2 separate regions of the Homo sapiens genome follow, and region 1 is linked to region 2. The links come from fine-mapping of genetic effects on gene expression. A gene starts in region 2. The other region holds a variant in brackets. All regions are shown on one strand. Distances are from middle to middle. Region 1 has its middle 44 kb from the start of KDM3A. Region 2 holds the start of RNF103 (ring finger protein 103).

Region 1 (15,104 bases), 230 kb before region 2:
GAGATTGTAGAAAATAGGTATATGTTTTTCCTTTAATATTTGGTAGAATTCACCAGTGAAGCCATGTGGAGTTGGTGCTTTCTGTTTTGGAAATTTATTATTTATTCAATCTCTCTAATTGTTATAGGTCTATTCAGATTGTCTATTTATTCTTAGGTGAGTTTTGGCAAAATGTGACTTCCAGGGAATTGGCCCATTTTATCTAGGTTAACAAATTTATGGGCACAGTGTTGTTCATAGTATTCCTTTATCATTCCTTCAGTGTTCTTGGGATCTGTAGTGATGTCCCCTCTTTCATTTTTTATATTAGTAATTTGTGTTTTCTTTCTTTTTGCCTTATTTAGCTTGGCTAGAGGCTTATCAATTTTTTTCATCTTTTCAAAGAACCAGCTTTTGGCTTTGTTGATTTTCTCTGTTGCTTTTCTGTTTTGAATTTCATTGATTTCTGCTTTAATTTTTATTTATCTTTTCTGTTACTTTACATTTAATTTTCTCTTTTTGTTGCAGTTTCCAAAAGTGGAAGCTTAGATGATTGATTTTACATCTTTCTTCTTTTCTAATATATAAATTCAATGCTATACATTTTCCTCTTAGTATTGCTTTCACTATATACCACAAATTTTGATAAGTTGTATTTTTATTTTTATTTAGTTAAAAATATCTTTAAATCTCTATTGAGATTTCTTCTTTGGCCTATGTTTTCTTTAAAAGTGTATTGTTTAATCTCCAAGTATTTGGCTATTTTCCAGCTATCTTTCTTTTCTTTTCTTTTCTTTTTTAAACAAACCACATGACTGTGTTAGCCACCTCTTTAGTTTTGCTTTTTTTAAAATTTATTATACTTTAAGTTCTGGGATACATGTGCAGAACGTGCAGGTTTGTTACATAGGTATACATGTGCCATGGTGGTTTGCTGCACCATAAACCCATCATCTACATTAGGTATTTCTCCTAATGCTATCCTTCCCCTAACCCCTCACCCCCAAACAGGCCCTGGTGTGTGATATTCCTCTCCCTGTGTCCATGTGTTCTCATTGTTCGACTCCCACTTATGAGTGAGAAGATGCAGTGTTTGGTTTTCTGTTTCTGTGTTAGTTTGCTGAGAATGATGGTTTCCAGCTTCATCCATGTCCCTGCAAAGGACATAAACTCATCCTTTTTATGGCTGCATAGTATTCCATGGTGTATATGTGACATATTTTCTTTATCCAGTCTATCATTGATGGGCCTTTGGGTTGGTTCCAAGTCTTTGCTATTGTGAACAGTGCTACAATAAACATACGTGTGCATGTGTCTTTATAGTAGAATGATTTATAATCTTTTGGGTATATATGCAGTAATGGGATTGCTGGGTCAAATGGTATTTCTGGCTCTAGATCCTTGAGGAATCGCCACACTGTCTTCCACAATGGTTGAACTAATTTACACTCCCACCAACAATGTAAAAGCGTTCCTGTTTCTCCACATCCTTTCCAGCATCTGTTGTTTCCTGACTTTTTAATGATCGCCATTCTAACTGGCGTGAGATGGTATCTCATTGTGGTTTTGATTTGCATTTGTCTAATGACCAGTGATGATGAGCTTTTTTTCATACGTTTGTTGGCTACATAAATGTCTTCTTTTGAGACATGTCTGTTCATATCCTTCGCCCACCTTTTGATGAGGTTGTTATTTTCTTGTGAATTTGCTTAAGTGCCTTATAGATTCTGGATATTAGCCCTTTGTCAGATGGATAGATTGCAAATTTTTTCTCCCATTCTGTAGATTGCCTGTTCATTCTGATGATAGTTACTTTTGCTGTGCAGAAGCTCTTTAGTTTAATTAGATCCCATTTGTCAATTTTGGCTTTTGTTGCCGTTGCTTTTGGTGTTTTATTCATGAAGTCCTTGCCCATGCCTATGTCCTGAATGGTATTGCCTAGGTTTTCTTCTATAGTTTTTATGGTGTTAGGTCTTAGGTTTAAGTCTTTAATCCATCTTGAGTTACTGTTTTTATAAGGTGTAAGGAAGGGGTCCAGTTTCAGTTTTCTCATATGGCTAGCCAGTTTTCCCAACACCATTTATTAAATAGGGAATCCTTTCCCCATTGCTTGTTTTTGTCAGGTTCCTCAAAGATCAGATGGTTGTAGATGTGTGGCATGATTTCTGAGGCCTCTGTCTTGTTCCGTTGGTCTATATATCTGTTTCAGTATCAGTACCATGCTGTTTTGCTTACTGTAGCCTTGTAGTATAGTTTGAAGTCAGGCAGCATGATGCCTCCAGCTTTGTTCTTTTTGCTTAGGATTGTCTTGGCTATATGGGCTCTTTTTTGGTTCCATATGAAATTTGGAACTCCTGACCTCAGGTGATCCACCCACCTTGGCCTCTCAAAGTGCTGGGATTACAGGCATGAGCCACCACACCCAGCCAATGATGAATTTTTTAAGAGAAAATAGCATTAGGAAGAATTAAAAGGAAGGCAAAGCCTCTGAAAGATCCAGAGGAAAATTTTAGGAAAGAGTTTGACCATAACCATGTTTTGGCCACTGGTGTATGGCATATACTGCATGCTATGGGGCAGCACCCTAGCCTCCCAGCTGTCACTGTAACTGAGCCCTCCACAGGCCATTCCACTGTTTAATCAAGCCAGCTGATTTGGGGTGATGTGTAGCACATGGCAAAAACAGTGAATTCTATAGATACAAGTAATGAGCTCACGTCTATAGAATGCCCTTCACCATAAAATGATCTCCTTAATAAAGGCAATTTTGTGTGAGTTGCAGATGTTGAGTAAGGCATTATTTAAGCCCACAAATGGTGCTGGCAGAAGGACTTCTATGGTGGGCATAGAAGACAAACTCGTATCTTGAATAAGTATCTATTCCCATAAAGACAAATTGCTGTCTCCTCCGCAATGGAAAATGTCCAGTATAATCAACCTAAGACATTGGGGCTGGCTGGCAGCCCAAGGATAGGTGTCATAATGAGGCCCCAGTGTTATCTCTGCTGTTAGAACATTGGGCACCCAGCAGTGACGTTAGCTAGATTAATCTTGGCGAGAGGAATCCAGCTTGGTGAGCTCATGTAAAATCTACCCCTGCCACCGTGGACATTTTGTTTATGGGCCCATTGAGTAAGCATCAAAATGTTTAGGGAAAGGAAATCACTTTCAGCCACACATGGGTTGTTTTGTGCACTCCACTAGACCACAGAGAGCTGCCTCTTCAGTAGATGCCCTTTGGTGAGCATTCATAGTGGTTACAAATATGTACATTTTTAGTGCCTGTTTTGAAGAGTTAATTCACATACTTCCTGAAGACTTCCTTGTCACTAGTCTTCCAATCTTGCTCCTCAGAAGTCAGTGACCACTCTTCTAATCCATTAATCCTTGATCATAAATTGGTATAGTTGCATACTCCAGGGCATCTCGCCTTCTACAGTAAGTGGACAACAGATGTACTGCTTAAAATTCTGCCTATTAAGAGGATTTCCTTTCACCCTTGCCTTTCAGACTCACTCTTCAGGGGAGCTGTAAAACAGCAGCTGTTCACTTGCAGCCCTATCATGCAGACCCACTGCAAACCAAGCCTGTGCTTTTTCTTCTTCTGTCAGCTAGTCCTAGGCAACTCCCCTTGAGGCCACTGGTGTGGGCTGAGAGAGGTGGTAAAGTAGTAGAAGCAAAAAATGTGGGAGGGTGAGCCACCTGCTTATGCAATATTCTTGAGCCTTTTATACCTGCTTGGGCCTTATCTTGTAAACACCATTTCCATTTTATACTGAGTACTGCTGCACATTCCAATTTTATGACTCAGTGGATTAGATAATGCCCAGTTCACAATGGACAGTTTGAGTTGCCTAGCTTGCCATAGTCAGGATTCAGACTCTATCAGGGACTAAATTCAGCCTTGTTCTGGGAATTGGTGCCTAGGTCTTGTGGTTTCATGGGGTTTTCTGGACTCTCTAAAGTTGGCACAGGGCTTCCTGTATGCAAAAGAAATCCCTACACTAAAGACTTCCCTGACATGATTGTGTTGCTGCATAAACTGTGATAATAATGACTAACCTGACTTTCACTTTTATTTAGTTAAGCTTCATAACAATTTGGTGAAGTAGGTTTTATGTTCTCCATTTAATCAGAAGAGAAAAACCTTGATACAGCTCTAGAGGTTAAATGCCTTGTCTGAGGCTACATGGCTCACAAGTGGTGACAGCTGGAGTCAGACTGCCAACTGCAATACTGTCCCCTTGGCCACCCGAAGTAGCTTCCCAAAGGCATATTTATATCAGCCACCTGCAGAGTCCTTTCAGTGCACAGAGACAAATTAGATTCATCTAGCCTGGGCCAAGGTATAGGGCATAGAGTAGGGTAGGTAAAGGCAAGGATATCAGTGGGTCTTGGTACAGGATGATTTTGTTGAATTCCTAAGGACCACATTCTCAATGGTGATGCCCACATTATAATATATACTGAAGCAATTATTGATAAAATGATATAATTTCTAAAATTTGCTTTAAATTAGCCAGGAAGAGAGAAACCAGTGATGAAATAAGATTGGCCATGTGTTGATAACAGTTGAAGCCTAGTGATGAAAATATAGTTCATTATACTGTTTTTCCACATACTAAAAAGTAAAAAATATATTCTATTCACCATGGCAGACCACATTATGGGCCATGCACCTATCTTAGCAAGTTTAAAACAACAGAAACTACACAATATCTGCTCTCAGACTACAATAGAATTAAATCAGAAATTGATAAAAGAAAGATAGCTAGGGCCGGGCACGGTGGCTCACGCCTGTAATCCCAGGACTTTGGGAGGCTGAGGCGGGTGGATCACGAGGTCAGGAGTTCGAGACCAACCTGGTCAACATGGTGAAACCCCATCTCTACTAAAAACACAAAAATTAGCCAGGCATGGTGGCACGCACCTGTAATCCCAGCTACTCGGGAGGCTGAGGCAGGAGAATTGCTTGAATCCAGGAGGTGGAGGTTGCAGTGAGCTGAGATCATGCCACTGCACTCCAGCCTGGGTGACAGAGCAAGACTATGTTAAAAAAAAATCATTATTTTGTTGTAAATCCAATATTGTTTTAAATTATTTAAATGTCACTTTAAATGTTGTTATAAATCCAGTTCTCTTCACTCCGCATCAAACAAGGCAAGGTGTGATCACACAGACTATTTGGGGGTGGGTGGCTGTGGGTCGTCATCTCCACAGTGCTTGGTTTCTCTTCTCAAATCTACAGCTTGGAGTAGGTTGATTTCCCTGCCTGTTTCCCAGGGAAGCGTTGCACTACCCATATGGCAGCTTTCTCATACTCCCTGTCTGCATTCCTCTGTTTCCCTAAATGAATGGAATATCTTGGATGAACTACTGCAAGGTCCTTTGGGTCTCTCCCACACAGTTTTGGCTCACTGCAACCTCTGCCTCCTGAGTTCAAGCGATTCTCCTGCCTCAGCCTCCTGAGTAGCTGGGATTACAGGTGCCTGCCACCACACCTGGCTAATTTTTGTATTTTTAGAAGAGACTAGGTTTCACCACGTTGGCCGTGCTGGTCTCGAGCTCCTGATCTCAGGGGATCTGCCCGCCTCGGCCTCCCAAAGTGCTGGGATTACAGGCATGAGCCACCACACCTGGCCCGATAATTCTTTACTCCTAGAACTAACTTCCCAAGATGTACTATACACACACTCACTTCCCCCAACCCCCACTCAACATACACATACACAAGACTCACTTACTGCCCCATTCCCTGGAATTGGTAGCCTCTATCTCCAGAAATATGGGATGTGAGAATGGAGGGTATAAAAGAGAAGGGAAGTGTACAAAAAATGCACAAAGTGCATAAATAAATATCCAAGGGATTTAGAGGGTGGATTAAATGCCAGCTTTTGTTCTTCCTATGTTTTGTGTGTCTGAGCCCAAGGACAAAACCTAGATGGAAGAATCAAGCTTGCTTACTTACATCCAGCACTCAGAAGGCAAAGCTGGGGTTCGTACCAGGAGCTGTAGCTTGGGTGCTTTCCTCAAAATGGTTATATCTGCCTCATAATCAGATCCCAATTTATCTGTCTATTGATTGCCTGTTGGTCGTAGTTTTCAGTGCTGCTGCAAGATCTGGTTATTTTCTTCATCTTCGTGGACAAAACACTGGAGGCAGTATTTTGAGGACTGCTACTCCTTCCCATGCTATTCAATAAATCTCCCCCAGTTCAGTCAGAAACACTGAGAAGTTACCCTGTGCCAAGCCCTGGATCAGGTGGCACAGGCTCCATGATCATTGTGTATGGGTGAGCTCATAGTCTAGAGCCAGTGCCAGCCGTGGGACTCGGTTAATGCCTCAGCAAACCTCCTGGCTCTCTGCCCCCCACCCCCTTCGCCCTTCGCTGACTTTCCCTTCATGACCCTGGTCTTTCCGTTGTGCCCGTTTCTATTTGCATAGACAAATACTTTAGCTATGCACCTATCTTGATTCTAGAAACTTAGGCTGTGTTTCAAGAAATGGATTGTTGTGGTCTCCATTTTGCCTCTGGAGCAGTGCATAGTCCACAGGGAGGCAGCATAGTCCACAAGCCAGGGTCCATGCTGAATTCCAGATAGAGATAGCAGCTGTGTGGCCTTGAGCTTCATGTCTCCAGCTCCCTCATCTGTCAAATGGGGATAATAATGTGCACCTGATAGAATTTTGTGGTAAGAAAATGAGAGGAAATATATTACAACACAAAGCACAGTCCCTGAAACAAAATGAAAGCTGTATAATACTCTTTTTCTTCCCCATCTTATACATAATGTGAAAACATTCCCTAAAAAACTTGGTTTTGGTCGGGCGTGGTGGCTCATGCCTGTAATCCCAGCACTTTGGGAGGCCAAGGCGGGTGGATCATGAGGTCAGGAGATCCAGACCATCCTGGCTAACACGGTGAAACCCCGTCTCTACTAGAAAATACAAAAAATTAGCTGGGCGTGGTGGTGGGCACCTGTAGTCCCAGCTACTCGGGAGGCTGAGGCAAGAGAATGGTGTGAGCCCGGGAGGCAGAGCTTGCAGTGAGCCGAGATTGCGCCACTGCACTCCAGCCTGGGCAACAGAGCGAGACTCCATCTCAAAAAAAAAAAAAAAAAAAAAAAAAAGAAAGAAAAAACAACTTGGTTTTGCCAGTATGACCTGTGAAGCTTTTCTGTATTCCTAGAAAAGAGTATTGTGTGAGTTGGATGACTGTGTGTGTGTGTGCACGTACACTCGGTCACACATGCACACTCTCCAGGTCTGCTAAATGGGGAATGCTAAAGTTAGTCTATTTTTGTTTGTTTGTTTGTTTGTTTGTTTGAGATGAGGTCTCACTCTGTCTCCCAGGCTGGAGTGCAGTGGCGTGATCTCAAGATCTCCTCCTGGGCTCAAGTGATTCTCACACCTCAGCCTATCAAGTAGCTGGGATCACAGGTGCACACCACCATGCCCAGCTAATTTTTGTATTTTTTGGTAGAGACAGGGTTTTGCTATGTTGGCCAGGCTGATCTCAAACTCCTGAGCTCAAGCGATCCTCCCACCTTGGCCTCCCAAAGTGCTGGGATTATAGGCATGAGCCACCATGCCTGGCCACC[A/T]AACTTAGTCTGTGTGTGTATGTGAGTATGTGATGTGCATATGCTCGTGCACACTTGCATGCCTGTCTTGGAGAAAAGAAATGACTCAGTTAAATTTGATTCGGATAATTGTCTAATAAATTAGTCTTTAATCAATCAGCAGGTCTTCCTAAAACCCTCACTTGCTCTAGATGCCAAGAGGCACAGATTGATAGAAAATATATCTTCTGCCTACAAGGATTTGCTGGTCAAAACTCTTTAAATTAGCTTAGGCACAAGGGTAAAATGTATTGGCTCAGGGAGAAAGACTATAGAAAGAGTAGGTTCAGCTGGATCCAGGGCTTAAACCGCCAGGACTCTCATACTGTCCTTGGGGCTCTGTTCTTATCTCCTTGCTAGCTTTGTTTTCTTAGACTGGCTTCTCCATAAGATAAGGGATGTGGCCGTGGGCAGTCCCAGCATTACATCCACACCGTGTGCAACCACAGCTCTCCTTTCCAAGTTTGAATGATAAAAATCTAACAAGAAAACTCTGATTGGCCAGGCTTAGGTCATGTGTCAATTCCCGGCCCAAACCAAGCCCTTGGGAGTTAATACTCCACTTGTGTCACCTGCATTCACTGGTGGCCAGAACACAGAGTATCACAAATGGCAGACTCATGTGGCTAGGGGGCAGTTTCCCGGAAGAAGGATGTTGCTATTATGAGCAGATGAGATAAATAATTACCTACGACACAGATGCATGCTAAATTTTGCAGTGGAGGAAATTAAGTCAGTGAAATAGTAAGTCGGTATTTTTTGAATTCTATTTTGATGGTGTCGGTGATATATTTATATAACTTTTACCCAGTTGGAACAAGCTATTTGCTTTTTGATAATATAAATGAACCACTTTAGTCAAAGTTTCATAAAAAAGGTATATTGATCCAGTTATTTTCAGCAAATTACTGTGGTTTTACAGCTCAATGCATGCCCATGAGATGAGTATTTTCTCATTTACTTTATAGTAACCTTTGTTAAGAGACTTATTAAGTCATAGCTTGTGGTACAAAGAATTTAAGTCATCTCTCCTCTCTATTCCACAAATGTCTAGGGCTTCTTTCTTTTTTGACCACTAATGCCTATAATTTCCAGTATTAATATCTTCTGACATGAACACGATAACATGAATCTACTAGATATAAACAGATGTAACAGCCATGGAATCCATTAGTGATGCTTTCAGAAAAAGAAATTTGGGATCCCAGGATCTGTCCCAACATTTGTAATATCTTGGGATAGGACCAGAAATTATGCAAGACTAAATAGAAGGCATGGATGGTCTTGGACTTACATATGGACTCAACTTACTGAGGTGGTGGTGAAATGGGGAGAGAGTGAATGAGTCAAGAATTGCAGAGACAAGATCAAGAGGCCTTGGCAACTGCTTGGGAAGGGGAACAAAGTAGAGGGAGGAGCCTGAGATGACACTGAAGTGGGGTGGAGGAGCAACTCACAGAACTAGGAGACAGGGAGGGGAAGCAGGTTGGAGGAAGAGTCCATTCCAGACACGGTGAAGACGAGCTACCAGGATTTGTTGGTAATATGGGAGATTTGTTGGTAATGCGAGATTGAAGCTCAGGAGAGAAAACAGATACTGGCTGAGCCATGATGGCGAGTAAGATCAGCAAGTCAAAAAGTGTAGAGAGAGAAGAGAAGACAAAGGAACTTTGAGGAACACTCCCTTAGTGACTGGAGGAAGTACTTGGAGCCAGAGAAAGAAGCAGAGAAGGAGCATCAGAGAGAATGCAGACACTGGAGAATGCCGTGTCGCATTAAAGAGCTTTGGAAGGAGAGTGGCCCATGGTGTCAAATGTGAAGAGGAGCCTGAGAAGGAGTCCCTGAAGCCAAACTGGAAAGTCTCTGCTAGGTTGGTGCAATGGACTGAAAGTGTGTGTCCCCCCACCCCACAAATTCTTATGTTGAAGCTCTAATCCCAGTGTGATGATATTAGCAGTTTGTGCCTTTAGGAGGTGATAAGGTCATGAAGGTGGAACCCTCATGAATGGGATTTGTGCCCTTATAAGAAAAGGTCAGAGAGTTAATACACTCTCCCTCGTGAGGATGTAAGAAGTCAGCTGTCTGTCACTGGAGGAAACCCTCACCCGAACCCAACCATGCCAGCACCTGTTCTCTGATTTCCGGCCTCCAGAACTGTTAAATTTGATTCAGATAATTTAAGAAAACTGTGAGAAATAAATTTCTGTTATTTATAAGCCACCCAGTATATTACTCTTCATTACAGCAGCCCAAAGGGACTAAGAAGGTTGGGCTTCCCTCATTTAGGAGAGATTCCTCAGAAGCAGTCTTGTGCAGTCGACTTATTCCAGAAGACATCTCTGAGGGTGTGGGGGGCAGCAGGACGGGGAAAGGTGTAGTACACTGGAAGAGGCATATCATGGCTATAAGATTAATGGCAGCCATAAGGCCCACTCATGCATCTTGCAGGGCTGGTACTACTGGTCACTTGGTAGTATGCTACAACCTGACCTGGAGATTTCCAACTCTGGTCCATGGATTTCCAGGAGACAAGGCCACCTCAGCATAGATGCAACTTTCATAAATCATAAAACAAAGCTTACTCTTACAAGAATAGCTTCAACTCCATTTATGAAAGAAACACTTTGTAACTGAGGTAATTGACCTGGACTGAATGCAGGTATAAGAAAGGGGGAAGGATCCCCCAAACTCTGAGAACAGTCTCCAGATGGAGACCCTCTCTGTCATTTGTCATCTGATCCCCTGACTGTATCTAGCCCATGCCACCAGCCTGCTCCTGTCTTATAAAAGTGCTGCCAGAATAAATTCCTTGAGCATTAGACAGTGTCTAAGACTCATGTCTGATGCAAATCTAACTGAAGGGGAAATATCACTCTTGGAGAAGCTGGTTAACTCAGACCACTCGAAAACCCCCAACACAACAAAAGCACAGCAGGTAAGCAAGGTGCAATTTCCAGCAAGTCCCAAGGAGGGGAGCTCCAGGCTGACCCTGCAGTGGGTGCTCTGGGCTTGCATTAGTCAAGGTTCTCCAGAGAAACAGAACTAATAGGATATATAGATGCTCCTCAACTTACAATGGGGTCACATCTTGATAAACCTGGCATAATTTGAACATATTATAAGTAAAAAAAAAAAAAATGCACTTAAGGGGCCAGGTGTGTTGTCTCAGGCCTGTAATCCCAGAACTTTGGGAAGCCAAGGCAGACAGATCACCTGAGGTGAATAGTCTGAGACCAGCCCAGTCAACATAATGATATCCCACCTCTACTAAAAACAGAAACTAACTGGGTGTGGTGGCACATGCCTATAATCCCAGCTGCTCAGGAGGCTGAGGCAGGAGAATCACTTGAACCCGGGAGGCGGAGGTTGCAGTGAGCTGAGATTGCACCACTGCACTCCACCCTGGGCGAGAGTGAGATTTTGTCTCAAAAAAAAAAAAAAAAAAAAAAAAAAGCACTTAATACACACGACCTACCTGAACATAATAGCTTAGCCTAGTCTACCTCACACGCGCTCAGAACACTTACTCTAGCCTACAGTTGGGCAAAATGATCTAACACAAGCTTATTTTATACTAAAGTGTTGACTATCTCATGTAATTTATTGAATACTATACTGAATGTGAAAAACAGAAAATGGTTGTATGAGTACTCAAAGTATAATTTCTACTGAATGCCTATTGCCTTTGCACCACTGTAAAGTAAAGAAATTGTAAAGTCGAGCCATTATAAGTCAGGCACAGTCTCTCTCTCTCTCTCTCTCTCTCTCTCTCTCCCTCTGTCTGTCTCTGTCTCTCTCTCTCTCTGTATACATATATGTGGAAATTTATTATAATAATTGGCTCACATGATTATGGAGGCCAAGAAGTCCCACAATTTGTTGTTTGCATCGTGGAGAACCAGGAAAACCAGTGTTGTAATTCAGTCTGAGTCCAAAGGCCTGAGAACAGTGGAGACAATGTTGTAACATATAATCCAAGTCCAAAGGTCTAAGAAGTAGGGGGCAGTTGGTATAAGTCCCAAAGTCCAAAGGTCTGATAACCAAGAGCTCTGATGTCCAAGGGCAATGGATGTTCCACTTCAAGAGAGAGATAATGCCCTCTTCCTCTGCCTTTTTGTTCTATCTGAGCCCTCAATGAATAGATTAATGCCCATTCACATTGAGTGAGGTTGGATCTTCTTTACTCAGTCTGTGATTCAAATGCTAATCTGTTTACCAGCTCTCTGTTTTACCAGCTATCTGGGCATCCCTTAGCCCAGTCAAGTTGACACCCAACATTAATCATCACAAAGTTGTCTTAGTGCATTTTAGTGTGTTACAGTGTTACAGGCTCACACCTGTAATCCCAGCACTTTGGGAGGCTGAGATAGGTGGATCGCTTGAGGTCAGGAGTTCGAGACCAGCCTGGCCAACATGGTGAAACCCCATCTCTACTAAAAATACAAAAATTATCTGGGCATAGTGGCCCATGCCTGTGGTCCCAACCACTCAGGAGGCTGAGGCAGGAGAATCGCTTGAACCTGGGAGGCAGAGGTTGTGGTGAGCCGAGATCATGCCACTGCACTCCACTCTGGGTGACAGAGTGAGATTCCTTCTCAAAAATAAAAATAAAAATAAACTATGTAAAAAAAAAAAAAAGAAGGTAGTGAATGAAACAGAACAACACCCCAGGGTAGAGAACAGTACCCTGGGGAAGCCTCCATCCTTCCTAGCTGAGCAAACAAGGCAATCTTGACTTGCCAGCAATGTGAGACAGGGAGAGAAGATCCCCTATTCTCTTGTACTGGGTTCCATCCCATCTCCACAATGCCTGGCAAAAGTGCTAATGGAAAGGTCTGAAGCTTTCTGTGCCATGCTTTGCCCATGAGCAATAATTACAAATGTGTATGGCCCAGGGCAGTTTCCAGAGCATTTTCCTGGATTTTCTAATTTAATGGCTGTGACAACCCCATGACATCAATGTTATTATTGCACCTTTATGAATGAGGAAACAGGCTCTGATAAGTAACTTGCCAATCTCCAAAGTGAAACATTGGAAGAACTGAAATGCAGACTCCAAGTCCCCAGCTGTAGCAAACTTAGTTAAAATGAGGGGTTGGGGTGAGATCTGAGGGGTATATGCAGGAGGCCTAGTTCCAAGAGCAATTTTTAATTTCCTGCTTTCATTTGATGATAATGTCAAAAATCGTTTAAACCATTTCTAAAGACAATATGTGAGCTTTTCTCAAACTGGGGGACAAGGACCTTGGGGTCCACAAAATGAGTTTCAGGGATTTTGTGAATTTTTTTTTCTGTTTAAAACAATTGTAAATTGTATTTAAGTTTGAGAAGCACTAGATTAGATGCCCTCGAAGAGGGGATCCAGCTCTAATATGCATTTCATAGATTTACTGTCAAGTAGGAACTGGGTGACTTGTTAGATTCTTTCAACATCTATTCATTTATTCATTTTTTTTTTTTTTTTGGTTAACCATTTATTGAATGCCTAGTATGCTTTGGGATTAAAGATGTTGGAAAAAATTAGACTGTATTCCTGGCTTTGTGGAGCAATGTCCAGTGAGTGAGCAAGATGTGAGGGAAAAACTAAGATACACATACACAAAAATGATATAATGCCCTATGTATTGCAATGGAAGAATTTACAGGGTAATATTATGCACAGGAGGTTGAGGAATTGGTTATGCCTCAAGGAGGAGCTATCGGTGGGGTGAAAGGCACAGCCATGGTTAGTGGAGGAATGAAAGGATGAGTAGCAGTGTTGGGGCCAGGGCCAGGGTGAAGCAAGTGAGGAAACTGGGGGACGATTTAAGGATGTGCTCCCTCTCAGGTATCAAGCCTGCACTTGTGTGACCCTGAGAGTGGGTGCCTTAATCACCTCACCTTAGACCCAGCTCTGAGTGATGTAATGGAACTCTGTTGTCGCCTACCCAGATCCCTTTATGTGAGTAAGACATCCATCCCCCAGCTGCTGTGGAGTTGGCCGCTAACAGCTCATGGCTGACTTTTTCTCCAGAGAATTGCCCTCAGCCAAATGGGAGCTGTCTCACTTCGGACATCATTTCCCTTCCCATTCCCCATTCATGAGTAGCCCATAGCCAAAGAAGAGAAATTGCTAGCATGACAGTGTCAGGGGCACTGTGGACCCACTCCTCAGTGAAACTGGTGACAATTATTTTAAAAAAAAAACCATTTAAAATATCTGGAAATGGTCCCAAGGACATATAGCAAATGAAGAAATATTTATTTAAGAAAATATAGGCCGGGTGCAGTGGCTCACACCTGTAATCCCAGCACCTCGGGAGGCTGAGGCAGGCAGATCACGAGGTCAGGAGTTCAAGACCAGCCTGGCCAACATGATAAAACCCTGTCTCTACTAAAAATACAAAAATTAGACAGGCGTGGTGGTGCGTGCCTGTAATCCCAGCTACTTGGGAGGCTGAGGCAGGAGAATTGCCTGAACCCAGGAGGCGGAGGCTGCAGTGAGCAGAGATCGCGCCACTACGCTCCAGCCTAGGTGGGCAACAGAGCAAGACTCCATCTCAAAAAAAAGAAAGAAAGAAAGAATGAAAATATAATAAAATTTGACATGAAAAGCAAGAGTCTGTTATATTTGAACCCAGACATGCTCCCTCCCTCCACCTTCCCAACTCAGTGAGATGGAAACTCCACTCCAGACTGGTTTAGCAAAGAACATAGGGCTCCTTCTCTCCCCAGTTCCCAGTTGGAGGTAAAGGGCATCAGTATTTCTCATCTGGCCTTCAGTTACCTATCCCAAATATCCCAAGTAAGTGTGGCTGACTGGTGGGGGCTCCTGTCTTCCTCTCAGCTTGCACTCATGGGGTGGAGACTACCTTGGGCAGTAGTACCCACTGAGAATACTGGGACCCCAATTTCCCTCACTCCAGCTTATAAGGCAGTGATCACTTGAGGTCAGGAGTTCAAGAAAAGCCTGGCCAACATGGTGAGACCCCATTTCTACTAAAAATACAAAAATTAGCCAGGTATGGGGCGCCTGTAATCCCAGATGCTCAGGAGGCTGAGATGGGAAAATCGCTTGAACTCAGGGGGCGGAGATTGCAGTGAGCTGAGATCATGCCATTGGACTCCAAATTGAGTGACAGAGTGAGACCCTGTCTCAAAATAAATAAATAAATAAATAAAGTAAAAAAGAAATGACTCCAGATAGTAACTCAAATCCAGAAAAACAAATGAAAAGAACTGGAAGTGATCAGTAAGAAGATTAATATAACAAAACCTATGAAATAAATCCTTATTGTCATTTCTTCTCTCAGCTTCTGTAAGACACAAGAAAACATATATAATAATGATTAAAACAATATATTTTTGGGTTTGTAACATTTATAAATGTAATATGTATAATAATAATACCACAAAAAAGAGAAAAGGGAATAGAGCTATATAGGAATAATGTTTCTATATCTCATTGGAATTAAGTTAGCATAAACCTAAATTTGTCCCTGAAGTTTTGTTGCATATAATGAGCC
Region 2 (14,959 bases):
TATATATAAAAATTACTCAGGCCACTGAATTAAAAACTGGAGATAATAAAAACTAAGAGAAACAGTGCAAATCACTAAATAAAAGGGATATATATGTGTATTTCTCAATTCAACAAAGGTCCAATAACTAAAATAGATTTGCTTCTGGGGATTCTAAACAAAAAGTTGACCCCCATCCCCCATCTTTCTCTTTCCCACTACTCAATTTTCATCTTCCTCAGTCTCCAAAACCTTTTTAAGAAGATACTGGAGCCTCCCTAAGAGAACTGAGTTATGTGTGAGAAACAAGACACAAGGACACGGAAGTGTCACTGGCTGGTACATACTATTTTGGTAAAAATAATTTTTTTAGGGCTCTCGAATTATCAAATTATTACTGCTTTTCATACCTGAACCAGCCAGATGCCATCTTTTGTGTCTTCCACAAGCTCATAGAAGTGCATTTCACCACTGAAATTGGTACTAGAAACCGATTCGGATGCTTCTTCTTCCTTGAGAGCAGAATAGAGCTCACCCTCCATCAAGTCACCTGAAGAAAGGAAAAGAATAACACTAATAAGGTTGCAAGAATCCTAGATTCCCAATTTCAGTAATTCTATTTTTTACACTGTTAAGAATCATGATATTGTACTTTCATTGTATTTTATAGACAAGAACTACTAGAAGAACCTGGATATACCCACTTAGGAGTCATACATTCAATAAATATGTAGTAAGAACTTCCTATGCATCAGGGAAAAGTGAACAAAATAGACAAAAATCCATCTCTTATAGAACAGGGCTTATATTTTAGTGGGGTTATCACATAATTATTAGGAACTTACCAAATTTGTACCACTCCAAAAAGGCACAACTTTCTTAATTATTTAGTTTTATGAATGACACATACAGGCTTCATATACATTTTTAAACAGTATGGCTTATATGCTTCTTACTTAAAAGATGTAGAATTGGGTTCACAGAATTTGCCATCAGCCCTGCTTAAAAGAGCAACAGGGTTTGTATGACTTGGAGGTTAGAACTTTACCTGTTAGACAGAACAAACTCCATATTCATATACAAATTTATATTATAAATTTAGAGCTTGTATCATTAAACAAAAAGGAAAGGAAAACACTAAAATCAAATTATTTTAACTTTCGCCTTAAATATTAAACAGTGAGAAACCAAGTACTGCACCATGATAGCAGCAAAACCATTCACAATAAACACTTAAATTTTAAACTGCTATACCATGACTTTTCTGCCATAAAACGTGTGATTTGAGTCATACTGGGCTGTGCGTCTTAAAGTTAAATGTGGACTTCTAGTACATTCAATGTGCCAAGTATTTTTAGGCCCAAAAGAAGGCAATAATAAATAACAGTCAAAAGAAAAAAAAATGTGTGACCAAATTATTTTCCATAAAAAAATGATGGCTTTGGCAGTTGAGACACTTCTCATCTCTAAACCAAGAGAGTTTATTTATTAGAGATCTTTTACCCTAGTTACTCCACTTCTTCCCCCTATGGTAGAAATAAGAATCGCCATAAACCAGTCAGCAAACAAGGGGCAAGAATAATATACGATTTTATATTTTCTCTAAAGAAACATTTATCACTTCTGCAGAGTGTGTTCCTCTCCTCTACCCTAATAGTGAGATATGAGTTTTATAACCCGCAACCTACAAATATCCAAGTGTTAAACTGCTAGCGAGCTCATACTCTTGTCTATCACGCTACATGTCTATAAGGTACTAAAGAAGGAAAAGATTTGTCTTGTAAAAGATACAGCTGACAAAAATACTTGAAACAACAAAAAAGATAACCATCAGTTTCAGCTGCTTCCCACAGCAACGCAGAAAGCCTTTCTCAAATTACATTCCACTTTCAGGAAGTATATCCAAAGATATACTTTGTGCAGCAGTGAAAAAAATTAACCATATTTCTCACCCAATCCTACCAAAACCAACAATTACTAAAAACACATTCTTTAAGACATTGAATATTCTCTCAGCACTATTTCACGTATATTTCTCAACCCATTAAACAATGCAAGGGTACCTGTGACACAGAAGACAAAAAAAATTTTTCTTTTACACATCCAAGATGCAAATTTTTAAAAATCCTAACAGAAATATAATATAAACTCGAACATGGCAGGCATTTATACAAAATGCTCGCCTTATTTTCACCAAACTTAAAGTCTGAAAAGCTAATACTGTACGGTGTATACTGTCTATATTCAAACTCATGATTTAACATTTAAATCCTAGGCCCAAGTGCCTCTGATAGTAAGTATTCCAAAGATGTGTCCCCACTCTGGGTATCTTATTATTACTATCGTGACAAATATTGCTATTGACAGACAACGTTTTGGAGTTTTTCTTACGTTTTTATGAACTTCAACTGACAAATAATGCTTTCCAGTTTGTAACTAGTTGATATTCCAGAATTTTGAGAAAATCACTCAACTTAGTAAACAACGCTAAGAAGCCACACTTTAAACTGTCATTTTACGATAACCTTAAAAGGATACACCAACACTCCTCCAAATAATTTCAGACTCCTCCTCAAAGCTGGGATCCGCATACTTGATTGTAGGAAGCTTGGACGAAGAAACCTGGGCAGCTTTAACGCTTCCAGGAAAGGCCTCACTCTGGGGGAACAGCCAGGTACCAGGAGGTACAGGTCGTCCCCTCTCCCAGGTGGAGGGGACCCTAGGGGAAGCCCGATACTCGCCTGACTTTTCCACCAGCTCCCGGACATCCTTCTTCTCGGGCAACCCTGAGTAGCCCAACCCCCGGCACTCCAAAATGGTCTTCAGCTTCTTGAAGCTCAGCGCCACCGGATCCACCAGCTGGGTGGCAAAGATGCCAGTTTCATACCACACAATGGCCTCAAAAAACCTGGCCAGGACGAACAGGACCAGGAAATAGAGGAGCAAGAAAAAAAGCTTCAGCCACATCTTCCCTGGAGTTTCCTCTCTTTCCAGAGAGCTCGGAATACGGGAGAGAGAAGGGTCGAGGGCGGGGGCCGCGGCTCGGTGGCAGCTTGGGCGAGGGCCCCGTGTCCACGCGCGGGCCACCCGGCGCCGTCACTGGCCGGCCATCCCCGGCGGGGAAGCAGGTGACGGGATCCGCGCGGGCGCGAGGCGGCGACGAGGGACGCAGAGACGCAGAGCCTCGCGCCGGGCCTCCCAGTCAAGAGCCGACAAAAATAAAGGGGAAAAACTCAAAACCCCCATCCATTAAGCACAGAAAGGAGAGGGGCGCGGGGAGAGCTCGCGGGGAAGAACAAAACGAGGGACGCTTCCCCCGGGGCGGGCACTGACCCAGGTGGCGGGGTCGGCCCTCCGGTGCCGCGATCTCAAGGGGGAGGGGGAGACCAAAAAATAACTCAGATCCGCCCAGGAGGCGGGGATCCGGGCGGCAGGCCGGGGCCCGAGGGGCCGTGGGGGCCGGACTCCCGCGGCCGCGGGTCAGGAGGGCGCGGCGCTCGGCCGGGCCAGGCCCGGGGCCCAGCGTGTTCTGCGCGGGGAGGAGCGGCCGCCGCAACGCCGCGCCCGAAGCCCAGGCCCCAGGCCCCGCCGACCGCCCAGGCTCCGCGAGAAGAGCGGCGGGCACGGCGGCGGCTCCAGGTTCGCTCGGGCCGGCTGGCGGGCGGCGCCTCTCAGGCGGGCGGGCACTGCGGCCCGGCCCAGGATGGGGCGTCGCGGTCTCTGCAGATGGAATCGGTCTCGGAGGGAAAAAACCAATAATAGGCCCCGAGACTGCTCCTCCAGGCGGCTACCCGGCTGCCTCCCGGCCACTCAGCGCCCGTCCCGCTCGGATGGGCAGTGCCGGTCGCAGCACCCGTCCCCAACACCCCCGCCACCTCCGGAGACCGCGGCCGTACCCTCCACAACCGTGTATCAGCGGCGGCCGCGGCCGGAGCCGAGACATAACAACTGACGTCGCGATGAGGCGGGGCCGGGGCGGGGCCTGCAGGGTGCGCCCGCAGGGGCCGAGGGCGGGGAATTCGGGGAGCCGCGGGGCTACCGGACTACCGAACGAGGGGCGGGAGGAGAGGCGGAGCCGCAGCGTGGTCGGGGCCTTCCCGCGGTGCCGAAAGTTGCCTCTCCGTGCTTTTGCGGCGTGGTCTCCCCTTTTGCCCCTCCAATGTTTAGCAATTGATTTTGTCTGAGGATTAGTCTTTAGATTGTATCACTTTGTGTATTTTTTGTAAAAATAGAGCAGTTAATTATTCTCTTAAAATCGGTGAAAATAGAAATGTACGTTTTTTGATGAATCCTGGTGAACAGGGAAATTTTTGGCACAGTTGGTTTGAGATGGTAGAAGGTTAAACCCAGAAAGCAAATGTTTTGCCCCCTCTTCATGAGAATGTGGCTTTGCACATGTGTGTTGGAGGAGGTTTGGCCAAAACTGGAGTTCGCGTTATACTAGGCCCAGTTGTCGCTGCCAGTTACAGCCTTTTCCCTCCTTCAGTCTCAAGGGTGTTAAAAGCCTGGTGTGGACTCCCTGAGTTCCTAGGACAAAGATTGTCGAGTGTAGATAAGTCCAGGTGCAAAGTTCCGGGTGCTTTATTTTGTACATGGGCCTGGCACAGTGGCTCACGCCTGTAATCCCAGCACTTTGGGAGGCCGAGGCGGGCAGATCACGAGGTCAGGAGTTCGAGACCATCCTGGTTAACACGGTGAAACCCTGCCTCTATTAAAAATACAAAAAATTAGGCCGGCGTGGTGGTGGGCCCCTGTAGTCCCAGCTACTCGGGAGGCTAAGGCAGGAGAATGGCGTGAACCCGGGAGGCGGAGCTTGTAGGGAGCTGAGATCGCGCCACTGCACTCCATCCAGCCTGGGTGACATAGCAAGACTCCGTCTCAAAAAAAAAAAAAAAAAAAAAAAAAAAAAAAGAAAGAAAGAAAAGAAAAAAAAGAGTCACATGGACAAGCATGCGATACCTGGTTCTGTGCTTATAAATTTAACCGGGCCGAGCGTACTCTTTACGTCAATCTCTGTGTCAGTCTTGAGGGAGGAAGGAGTTGGGTTCATAAACTGAACAAGGTTGGCTTTGACCAGCCCCTTTTGATAAGGAAGGAAAAAAAAAACAGTAATTACGGGGAAATGTTACTATTTGTGCAAAACTGTCAACTATCTGAAACTAGGGGTGAAAGTTTTAGGAAGAAAGGGATCATGATCCCAGGTCATGGAGCAAGGGAGGAACGGGAAGCAAAGAATGGACTGTGAGAATGTAGCCTCCGAATGGTGCCCATTTAAAATAAAGTGAACAAGGGCATTTCAGTGCCGGGCTAGTGGGGGAGGAGTTGGAAGGGGATGGGCCCAGGGAGCATTGAGAATCAGAGGAGGAGGTGTAGGAATGTCCAGCCAGCAACTGGACACTGCCCCTGTGTCTTTAGCTTCCATGTGGCTTTGTTCTCGTGGCTGGCAGATCAGTGTGGGAGACTGTGTTAAACAACTGATTCTAACAAGCCTGGTTCTGAAATTTCAGAATTCTTGGGCATGTCTTGGTGACCCTTTGATGATATTGTCCAAACCTTGACACTGAAGGTGATGTCCCTCACCTCAAAGGAATGTATGTACTCGCTAGTGAGGAGAGACTGACCCAATCTCAAAAATACAGAATAGGCATGGGCAGGGAAAGTTGGTGTGTGAGCTGAGGGTGGAACCAGTCAGGCCAGAGTTCCAAATTGGAAAAAAACATTAGAGTGTGGGAGGGACTAGAAAGAAGGAATTAAAGAACTCTTTTTAAATTTCTTGTTTGTTTCAACTGCCTCCCATCCCAACCCCCTTGCTTTGTTTCATTCATGGTTAACCCACAGGAGGGATAAAAGCATTGATAAGAGAACACATTGGGTCATCTGAATAAGAGAGTATGGACAAGCACATTCTATGTTGGTGGGGTATACAATGTGGGTTAGAAGCCCCCCATAAAATACAAGCTCTTTGGCACAGTAATCTCTCTTCAGGAAATTTATCTTGAGGAATAATTGGACATGGGCACAAAGATGTGTGTATAGAATTTCGTCGTTGTTGCAGAGTTAATGCTGGAAAGAAAAAAGGAAGAACCCAAATATCTAGTGACAGAGGATTGATCAAATACAGTAATTCAAATGATGAACCATGAGGCAGCCACTAAAAAGAAAAATGTAGACACACGGTTATGGACATGGAACCATGTCCAAAATATAGTGTTTGGTGAAAAAAACCAGGTGACTGAGAAGTTTGCGTCATATGATCCTATTTTTGTATCTGTATTACAAAAAGACAGAGATGTATCCACTAAATTGTTAGGTGTATTCACCTCTAAGTGATGGGATTTAGAATATTTTTTCTTTTATGCTATATCTCTGTTTTATTATATTTTCTGAAATAATCATGTATTACTTTGTAATCTAAAAAAAAAACAACAACAACAAAACAAAACAAAAAAACCCACTAGGACTGTTTTCCTGGTCCGGAGGTTTAGCGGCAGCGGTTCATCCTCTGGGACTCCAAAGATGACAGGGGTTGGAGGTGTGGGCTGTCTTCCCATGAGATTGATTTCAGTTTCCACTAAGCCTAGCTGGGCAGACTAATTAGAATTTATTTTCAAAAACAGAAGAATGTATGAATTATTCATTTTCATAATCTGTTTTTCTAATAGGCTATTAATCTGGGTTATTGGTTTTATATCTCAGATTCTGTTCATATGTAGGATGGCTTAAATGCTTTATCATTTGATATTGTGGCAAGAGTGTGCAAACTGCAATTAAAGGGCCTGGTCCAGTGGACTAGTGTCACCTTGGTAGACAATCAGAAGACCTCCCTAACCTCTTTTTTTTTTTTTTTTTTTTTTTTTGGGAGTTTTCCTCTGTTGTCAGGCTGGAGTTCAGTAGCACGATCTCAGTTCACTGCAACCTCCGCCTCCTGGGTTCAAGCAATTCCCCTGCCTCAGCCTCCCAGGTAGCTGGGACTACAGGCACGTGCCACCACGCCGGGCTAATTTTTTGTATTTTAGTAGAGATGGGGTTTCACCGTGTTGGCCAGGATGGTCTCAATCTCCTGACCTTGTGACCTGCCTGCCTTAGCCTCCCAAAGTGCTGGGATTACAGGCATGAGCCACTGCGCCCGGCCCCTCATTTTTATTATCTATAAAATGGGATAGGATGCTTACCCTATGAAGCTGTCGTAAGGATTAAATGAGTGAGTGATTGTAAAAGTGCTTTGAAGTACACATTGCTTGTAATTAATTTAAAATGAAGAATTAGTTTTTGGATACATTCTAATGTACAGAGGGTAAAAATTGAAAAAAAAAAAACCAAGAATCGGTTTTTGGAAAAAAGAAAATTAAAGTCTTTGACTGAGCTTGATGAACCAGAGTTATTTTATTTAAGGTCCAAAGAGCCTTCTCTTTTTATTTCACTGTTATCAAAATATCATGCACACATAGTTTAAAAAATGAAGTAGCATTTCAGGGCTACATACAAAACTGGGACAACTTTGGGAGTAAAAGGGGCAATGGTAATGAAATTATACCAGACTAGGGAGGAAAAACTGAGAATGTCCCTGACAAACCCTGCTTATAAAAAAACACATTGGCCAGAAGAGGTGGCTCACCTGTAATTGTAGCATTTTGGGAAGCCAAGGCAGGAGGATCACTTGAGCCCAGGAGTTCCAGACCATCCTGGGCAGCATAGTGAGACCCTGTCTCTACAAAAAAATACAAAAAATAAAAATAAACTGGGCATGGTGGGCACCCTCCTGTAGTTCCAGCTACTCAGGAGGCTGAGGCGGAAGGATTGCTTGAGCCCAGGAGTTTGAGGCTGCTGCAGTGAGATGTGATCCCGCCACGGTACTGCAGCCTGGGTGAGAGAGTGAGACCCTGTCTCAACAAAACAAAACAAAACAAAAGACCACATCCCCTGCTTTTCCCTACCATCTCTGATTCCCATTCCTCAGAGACACTGCCTTCAATTATTTTAGCAATTTTTTCATGTTTACCTCTATATTTTCAAAGAATAGGTTTTTACTGCTTTTCTTGCTTTTTCCATTTTATACATTATCTATTGATTTCTTACTATGGACGATGAGGAATTCTGTCTTTTATGCCCTGTATTCATACACCATTTCCCTCCCCTCATTCCCAACATGATTATATTATATATTCATCTTTATATTAATATGCCCATATAAATCTTGTTCATAGCTGAACCATGTAAGAAACCTTTCTTGTGCAATTGTTCATTGCCTCTGGAGTTAATAATTAACTCAAATTTTGGTTTGTTCTATTTTCTATGGCCCCAGCCACTTATTCATCCCCAAACTCTCTGAACTCTAAGATTACTCAAACAGCTAATCTATTAGTTTCATATTTTATTGGAAATAAACCTTCTGTCCTCAGTCCTCCCACTCCAGGTCAGCCTGGCTCCTGTCCAGAGCCACCCACAGCTGTTGTCTCAGGACTTCCCGTCTCTTCTCTTTTGTGCTGGATTCTCTGTTTTCTTGATCCCATGGTTGCACTTTAGTTCTTTCATTTTCTTGTTTGCATGAACACCTCCACGTCTACAGTGGCTTAGTAAGAAAGTGGGCACGGAGATAAACTTTGGATGCCCTACATGTCTAAAAATTCCTTTATTTTACCCCCATTAGTTGTATGGGTTTTTTTTTTTATCAAACTTGGAGAAGACTTAACTTGCAAGAATATTACAAAAAGTGTCCTTACCAATTCACCAATTGTTAACCTTTTGCCCTATTTGTTGAATTACATCTTTTCTCTAGATTATAAGCGCATACTTTTTTTTTTTTTGTGAACCGTTTGAGAGTTAGTTGCAGTTATCCTCATGTTGGATGATAGTTTGGCCAAATATAGAATTCTAAGCTGGACATCATTTTCCCTCAGAAGTTTGAAAGCACTGATCTATTAGCCTTTGGCTTCTATTGTTGCTGTTGGAAGGCTAGCATCGTTCTGACTCCTGCCCTTTAAAAGTGACTTGTTTGTTCTATCTGTATGTTTTTTGAACTTCCTTTCATCTTTGGTGTTCTGAACTTTTATGATATACCTTAATCCAAGTTTCCTTCCCTTCATTATGTTGAGTACTTTTCAATATAGCAACTCATGACGTTCAGTTCTGGGAATTTCTTTGATAATTTCCTCTGTCCATTTTCATTAGCAAGATGTTGGAACTCCTAAATTGATCCTATAATTGTATTCTCTTTTTTCTCCAGTTTTTCTTTCTTTGCCATTCATTTCACTTTCTAAGAGATGTCTTCGCCTTTATCTTTTGCTCCTTCTACTAAATTCTTTTTTTTTAGAGACAGGGTTTTGCTCTGCCACCCAGGCTTCAGTGCAGTGGTGCAATCATAGCTCACTGCAGCCTTGAACTCCCGGGTTCAAGTGATCCTCCTGGCTCATCCTCCGAAGTAGGTGGGACCATAGGCATGCACCATTGTGCCCAGCCAATTTTAAAATTTTTCTCTTGTTGAGATGGAGTCTTTCTATGCTGCCTAGGCTGGTCTCGAACCCTTGGCCACAAGGGATCCTCCCATCTCAGCCTTCCAAAGTACTGGCATCACAAGCGTGAGCCACCATAACTGCCTAAATTTCTAATTTTGTCTATACTCCTTTTTCATTTTCAAAAGCTCTTTCTTGTTACTGGGATGTGCCTTTTCTGTGGCATCCTATTCTTTTTATGTATGCAATATGTTTATTCTCCTATCTTTCTGAAGATATTAAGTATAGTGGTCCCCCCTGAGGTTTCTTTTGCCCTTTGCAGTGCCTCTGGATTCATTTTCTATTTGTTTGCTTTTGACTTTGCCTTTCACATTAGAGGCTCCCTTTAATTGCTCAGTAATTCTTGGGTCTGTATTCACAGGTCCATAAACTTGAGGCACTGAAAAGCTCATTAGAAATTCTTTGAGAGTGAATGGGGCTCACTGTAGGTGAAAGAGAAGAGCCCTACCCATTTCACTGGGAGGATCTATCTATAAGTCCTTTCTCCACGCTGTTCTCTTTCTTAAGAGAGGAATCCTGCCTAGAGAGTTCAAGTATGGCTGCCAGCATTCTGGGACTGAGTGGGAAAAGGAGCTGGGGTTATCAAGTCTTAGCCGTTAGGCTTGTGCCTAATCCCATGGTTTTCAGTAGGGTGTCTCATCTCTTCTCCCTTGCTTAGCTCTGAGCTAGGAGAGCCAATCCATTCACTTCAGAGGATAAACCTCCCACCTTCCACTGGGCTAGGAGAGGGGCAAGTGCCTGGCTGCACAGGGCCCAACTGTACTTTATGAGACTTTGGGCAAATCCTCGGTTTTGTGCCTCACCCTCCACCCTGGGCTTCTAAAGCGCTGTGCTTCCCATTTCTGACTTTTCCTGGGTTCTGTGGCACTAACTGGTTAGTGTGGCAGAGGTCATGCCACGGATCCAGCATGTCATTGTGTCTTCCCAGGAGTCTAAACGGACCATACCTTATGGCCTTTCTTGCAGTTAGGTTGGGTAAGTGACTGAATTGTAATTAGTGGGAGTGATGCCCACCCCTTTCAGACCTGACCCTAAAAAACAGCCTCTAGCCCTTTCCAGACTGTGTGGCCAGGGAGTGGGGTGGGCCCAGAGCACAGCCCTGAGACCTTTGCTCTATAGCAGGCCCTTTAAACTAGGGATGAAAGAGTTGGGCCCTGGGGCCCCTGGGATTTGTTCTCATCTTTAGCTGAGATATACATATCGCTCCCTCACACACATGTACACATACATACATACATATATATTTGCTATAGAGCCGTCTGCATCCAAGACGCAGTCAATTCCAGAGTACCAGGGGAGTAAGGCCCGGGCTCCCAGGAACCTGAGAATTGGGAGCATAGGAAAAATAATCCTTCACTACCTTGCTTTCTGTTGGGGCAAGGAGAGTGGCAGACAGAGGCAAAGGAAAAGACTCTATTGTCTTTACTTCGCTCCCTAACTGCATTATTAAGAACACATTTTGGTTTAAAAAAAGTGTAAAAATGGCTAGAAATGGTAAAAAAAAAAAAAAGGCTAGAAATCTGCATCTTACTTAGATAGATGGGATGGGTCGGTTTATTATCTTAGATCTGGCTGATAAACACAGCTAGGCACAGATTTTAGGCAGGTAAGCAAGTGACTTTAAGTCTGTCTCCTGGCCGGGCATGGTGGCTCATGCCTGTAATCCCAGTACTTTGGGAGGCTGAGGCGGGCGGATCACAAGGTCAGGAGATCGAGACCATCCTGGCTAACATGGTGAAACCCCATCTCTACTAAAAATACAAAAAAATTAGCTGAGCGTGGTGGTGGGTGCCTGTAGTCCCAGCTACTCTGGAGGCTGAGGCAGGAGAATGGCGTGAACCCAGGAGGTGGAGCTTGCAGTGAGCCAAGATCATGCCACTGCGGTCCAGCCTGGGCAACAGAGCGAGACTCCGTCTCAAAAAGAAAAAAAAAAAGTCTGTCTCCAGCATGTAGACATATTCGATATTTCATTTGGGGACATAAATATTAATTTCATTAGCGACTAATAATAAACAGTATGATATGGGTTTCCCTTGACCTAGGAAAGTTCACCCTTCAGCAGTTCGCCCTGGGGGCTCTTTGCCAGTTCCACAACTGTTACAAGGTGAAGCCAGGAGGTGCACACACACACACCCTGCCACCTACAGTCCCCCTGGATTCTTCCCTCTCAGCCCAAGCTCCTCTTCCCTTTTCTAGCCCTTTCCTCCCACATTTCCCACACTTACACAAGCCCACTTCCGGGGAGTCCCCTAAACAGTTAAACAAAGATCATTGAAAATACTTATAATCGATTTCTGTATTCCCAGACTGATTTACATTTTGAAAGCTTACCACTGGGCAGTATGTAATTGTATCATTTATAGTTGATTTAAATATGGCATTTATGGTCAATAAAAAAGGAGAGTTAAGATTAAGCCGTCAGCACGCACCTACCTACTGTATCGGTGCTGTGAGAAAATCCAACTTGCCACAGAATACCTTCTCCAGGCCCAGCCCCTGCTGCGATTGTGAGCCTCTTTCCTGTCCTTCCTGTGTGGAGATGACCCTGTTGACTGACTCACCACAGCATTGGTCCCAAGCTGCTTTTCCCAATGCATTAAGGCCATTATCTGCAGGAATGAGCAATGCCAAGTGCTTTATTCCGAGCTCTATCTGGCACTCGAGCTGGTGTCTTCAAAAGAAGGACTGCCTTTTCACCAGAGAGATACCTGTAGAAACTGGCTTTCAATAAAGCTGAAAGGAATGCACCCTGGGGCAGCTCGCTTTGTACATTGCCATCCCGATAATAAACAGCTCTTCTACTCTGGCCAGCCAGCCTGCCAGTCAGCTTTTTGAGTGATTTCCTTGAAGATGAGGTTGCCAAAATGAGGAATACACAGCGTCAAAACAGAACATTACAGGACTGCAGTTATGGGAGGTGATGGTTAGTCACACAGTTTAATAATCTCAAATTCCTGATTTCTCATTTCCCTTTTTTCCACCACCTTTTCCCATGCACAGTCAAAAAATTATATCAGGGCTGGGCACGGTGGCTCACGCCTATGATCCCAGCACTTTGGGAGGTCAAGGTGGGCGGATCACTTGAGGTCAGGAGTTTGAGACCAGCCTGGCCAACATGGTGAAACCCCTTCTCTACCAAAAATAAAAAAATTAGCCAGGCATGGTGGTGCATGCCAGTAGTAATCCCAGTTATTAGGGAGGCTGAGGCACAAGAATCGCTTGAACCCGGGAGGCAGAGGTTGCAGTGACCCAAGATCGTGCCACTGCACTCTAGCCTGGGCAACAGAACAAAACTCTGTCTCAAAAAAAAAAAGAAAAAAGAAAAAAGAAAAGAAGAAATTATATCAACGGTTGGCAGCTTCCTCTGCAGAAAACAGTCACCAGTGCTATCTTCTGCCAACACCAGTAACAGCAGGCAGTAGGACTCCCTGAATAAACATTTTGAAGGCAAAGGTAAAGAAGGGTGGAATAAGCAAATAAGAAGTCACCATTCCTCCTGGAGTAAACCATTCCCTCCTCTGATTGCCTGAAGCTAACCATGAGACAGCAGGACTGGCTACATAATTTTCCAGCCTAGTACAAAATGAAAATGCAGGCCCTTGTTCAAAAGGCTAGGAAGAAAAAGTGCCATTAAAAGTGCTGAAATACAAAGCTTTTCCTTTCTTTCACCATCTATCTTGACCTGTCGGTCATGATGTGCTTTTAAAATTTGCTCTTTAATATAGTTCGCCTTTGGGCAGGGGATACTCCCAGGGCAAGTGTGAGTCCTCACAGGCTCCGGGGTCCCCCTCCCTCCAGCCACAGGCCAATGCTTGGTGCCGGGCCAACCTGCAGCAGATGGTTGGCCCTGAAGGGATTGAAACCTCAGTGCCAGGACAAGCTCAGTGCCTGGATTGGGGGTGGGGCAGAGGCGAGTTGCCCCCTAACAGTTGTGGTGCTGCCAGGCCCTGCTGCAAAGAGACCCTGGATGCCCAGCCTCAAGTCTCCCCGGGTGCAACTCCAGGTCCCTATTGAAAGCAGAGGATGACAGCAGAATGTTACCCCCCAACCCCCACCTCTGCCAGACACAACATAGTTGCCATCCCAGTTAAAGGCAGGCAGGGGCCACAGTGGGGAGAGCAGATGTGGAGAGGGGGTGGCTGGGCAGGGTCCCAGGAACCAGGCAATGGAGAACAGGCTGCCAAGGACCTATTCTCAGGGAGGTGGGGAGCTGGCAGCAGGCAGAACCGCATGTAAGCTAATGGCACGTGCTTCAATGTCCATTGGACTTCACTTGCAAAACACAAATTCAAAGATTAAATTATTAAGAATTCAAGACACAAATTCAAAGATTAAATTATTAAGAATATCAAGCAACTGCAGAGCATTAAACTCCAAGCATGCAGGGCTCTTCTGAACCTGGGGCCATGTGCAGCTGCACTGTTCCCATACCCATGAAATCCGTCCTCTGCAACCAAATTATTGAAATCAGTGAAGGTCCAGAAAATGTGTGTTCAGAAACGTATTTGTAGCATTTCTCATATGCTGCCTTGTACATAGTCTTATTTCTATACTACCCTCTTTCCTTCCTGCATGCCATCTGCATGGCCTAGCTCCTGTGCTTTCAGGCTAATCTCTAGCATGTTAGAGCTCCCCTCTCTAACCCTGATCTGTAAAATGGAAACAATAATGATGATCTCATAAAAGTGTTGTGAGGACCAAATGAAGTAAAGCTTAGAAGCCATTTAGCCCAGAGCCTGGCACATGTTTGTTTGTTTGTTTTTGTTTTTGAGATGGAGTCTCGCTTTGTCACCCAGGCTGGAGTGCAGTGGCGTGATCTCAACTCACTACAACCTCCGCCTCCCGAGTTCAAGCTATTCTCCTACCTCAGCCTCCTGAGTAGCTGGGACTACAGACGTGCCCCACCATGCCCAGCTAATTTTTCTATTTTTAGTAGAGATGGGGTTTCACCATGTTGGTCAGGCTGGTCTCAAACTCCTGACCTTGTGATCTGCCTGCCTCGGCCTCCCAAAGTGCTGGGATTATAGCGTAAGCCACCGCGCCCGTCCAAGGCATATGTTTTATACATGCAAACACACACACACACACACACACACACACACACACGTGCCCACATACACTGATAGGAATGCATCTCTGCTATGACACATAGGGACAGTACCAGAGTACACAGAAGACACTTAATAAGTCTATTTTTAGACAAAAGAACACAGGGTGAACATGTTTTAAGTGTCAATCTGGCTAATGTATATTTTAAATGAAATGTAGTGCAAATGGAAGTCTGTTAAGTTACAGAGAGACTAGAAAAGGATTTTTCAAAAATTAAAGTCATTATGGTAGAGTAATTCTGAAAGTAAGCTCAATTTAATTAAGCACATGGCAAAAATAAAGTCTTAAAAAGCTTGATAAATATAATTTTAGTATGAAAATTAGGTCTTCTAAGGAAAGATGAAGAAAATTGGAATTGGTTA

The links. PIP is the estimated chance that this variant, and not a neighbour inherited with it, causes the effect.
Region 1: its variant is fine-mapped to the expression of RNF103 in whole blood (TOPMed, PIP above 0.99).

Annotation. Positions count from the first base shown.
Region 1 is chr2:86,390,089-86,405,192 of GRCh38, forward strand. No RefSeq gene overlaps it. Among named protein-coding and RNA genes, the nearest start is that of KDM3A, 44 kb to the right of the region's middle. The variant A/T (reference allele first, on the strand shown) is at 7,582.
Region 2 is chr2:86,619,941-86,634,899 of GRCh38, forward strand. RNF103 (ring finger protein 103) reads right to left here and starts at 3,925. Exons shown (of 4, transcript NM_005667.4): 1 at 2,721-3,925; 2 at 390-529. The coding sequence starts at 2,946. RNF103-CHMP3 (RNF103-CHMP3 readthrough) reads right to left here. Exons shown (of 8, transcript NM_001198954.1): 3 at 390-529. The coding sequence starts at 521. It overlaps LOC124907853 (a long non-coding RNA gene), which reads right to left and starts at 12,574. Exons shown (of 2, transcript XR_007087122.1): 1 at 11,922-12,574; 2 at 8,336-8,548. RefSeq lists silencers at 2,746-2,795, 2,976-3,055, 3,326-3,865, 3,946-4,115 and enhancers at 3,826-4,120, 12,872-13,395.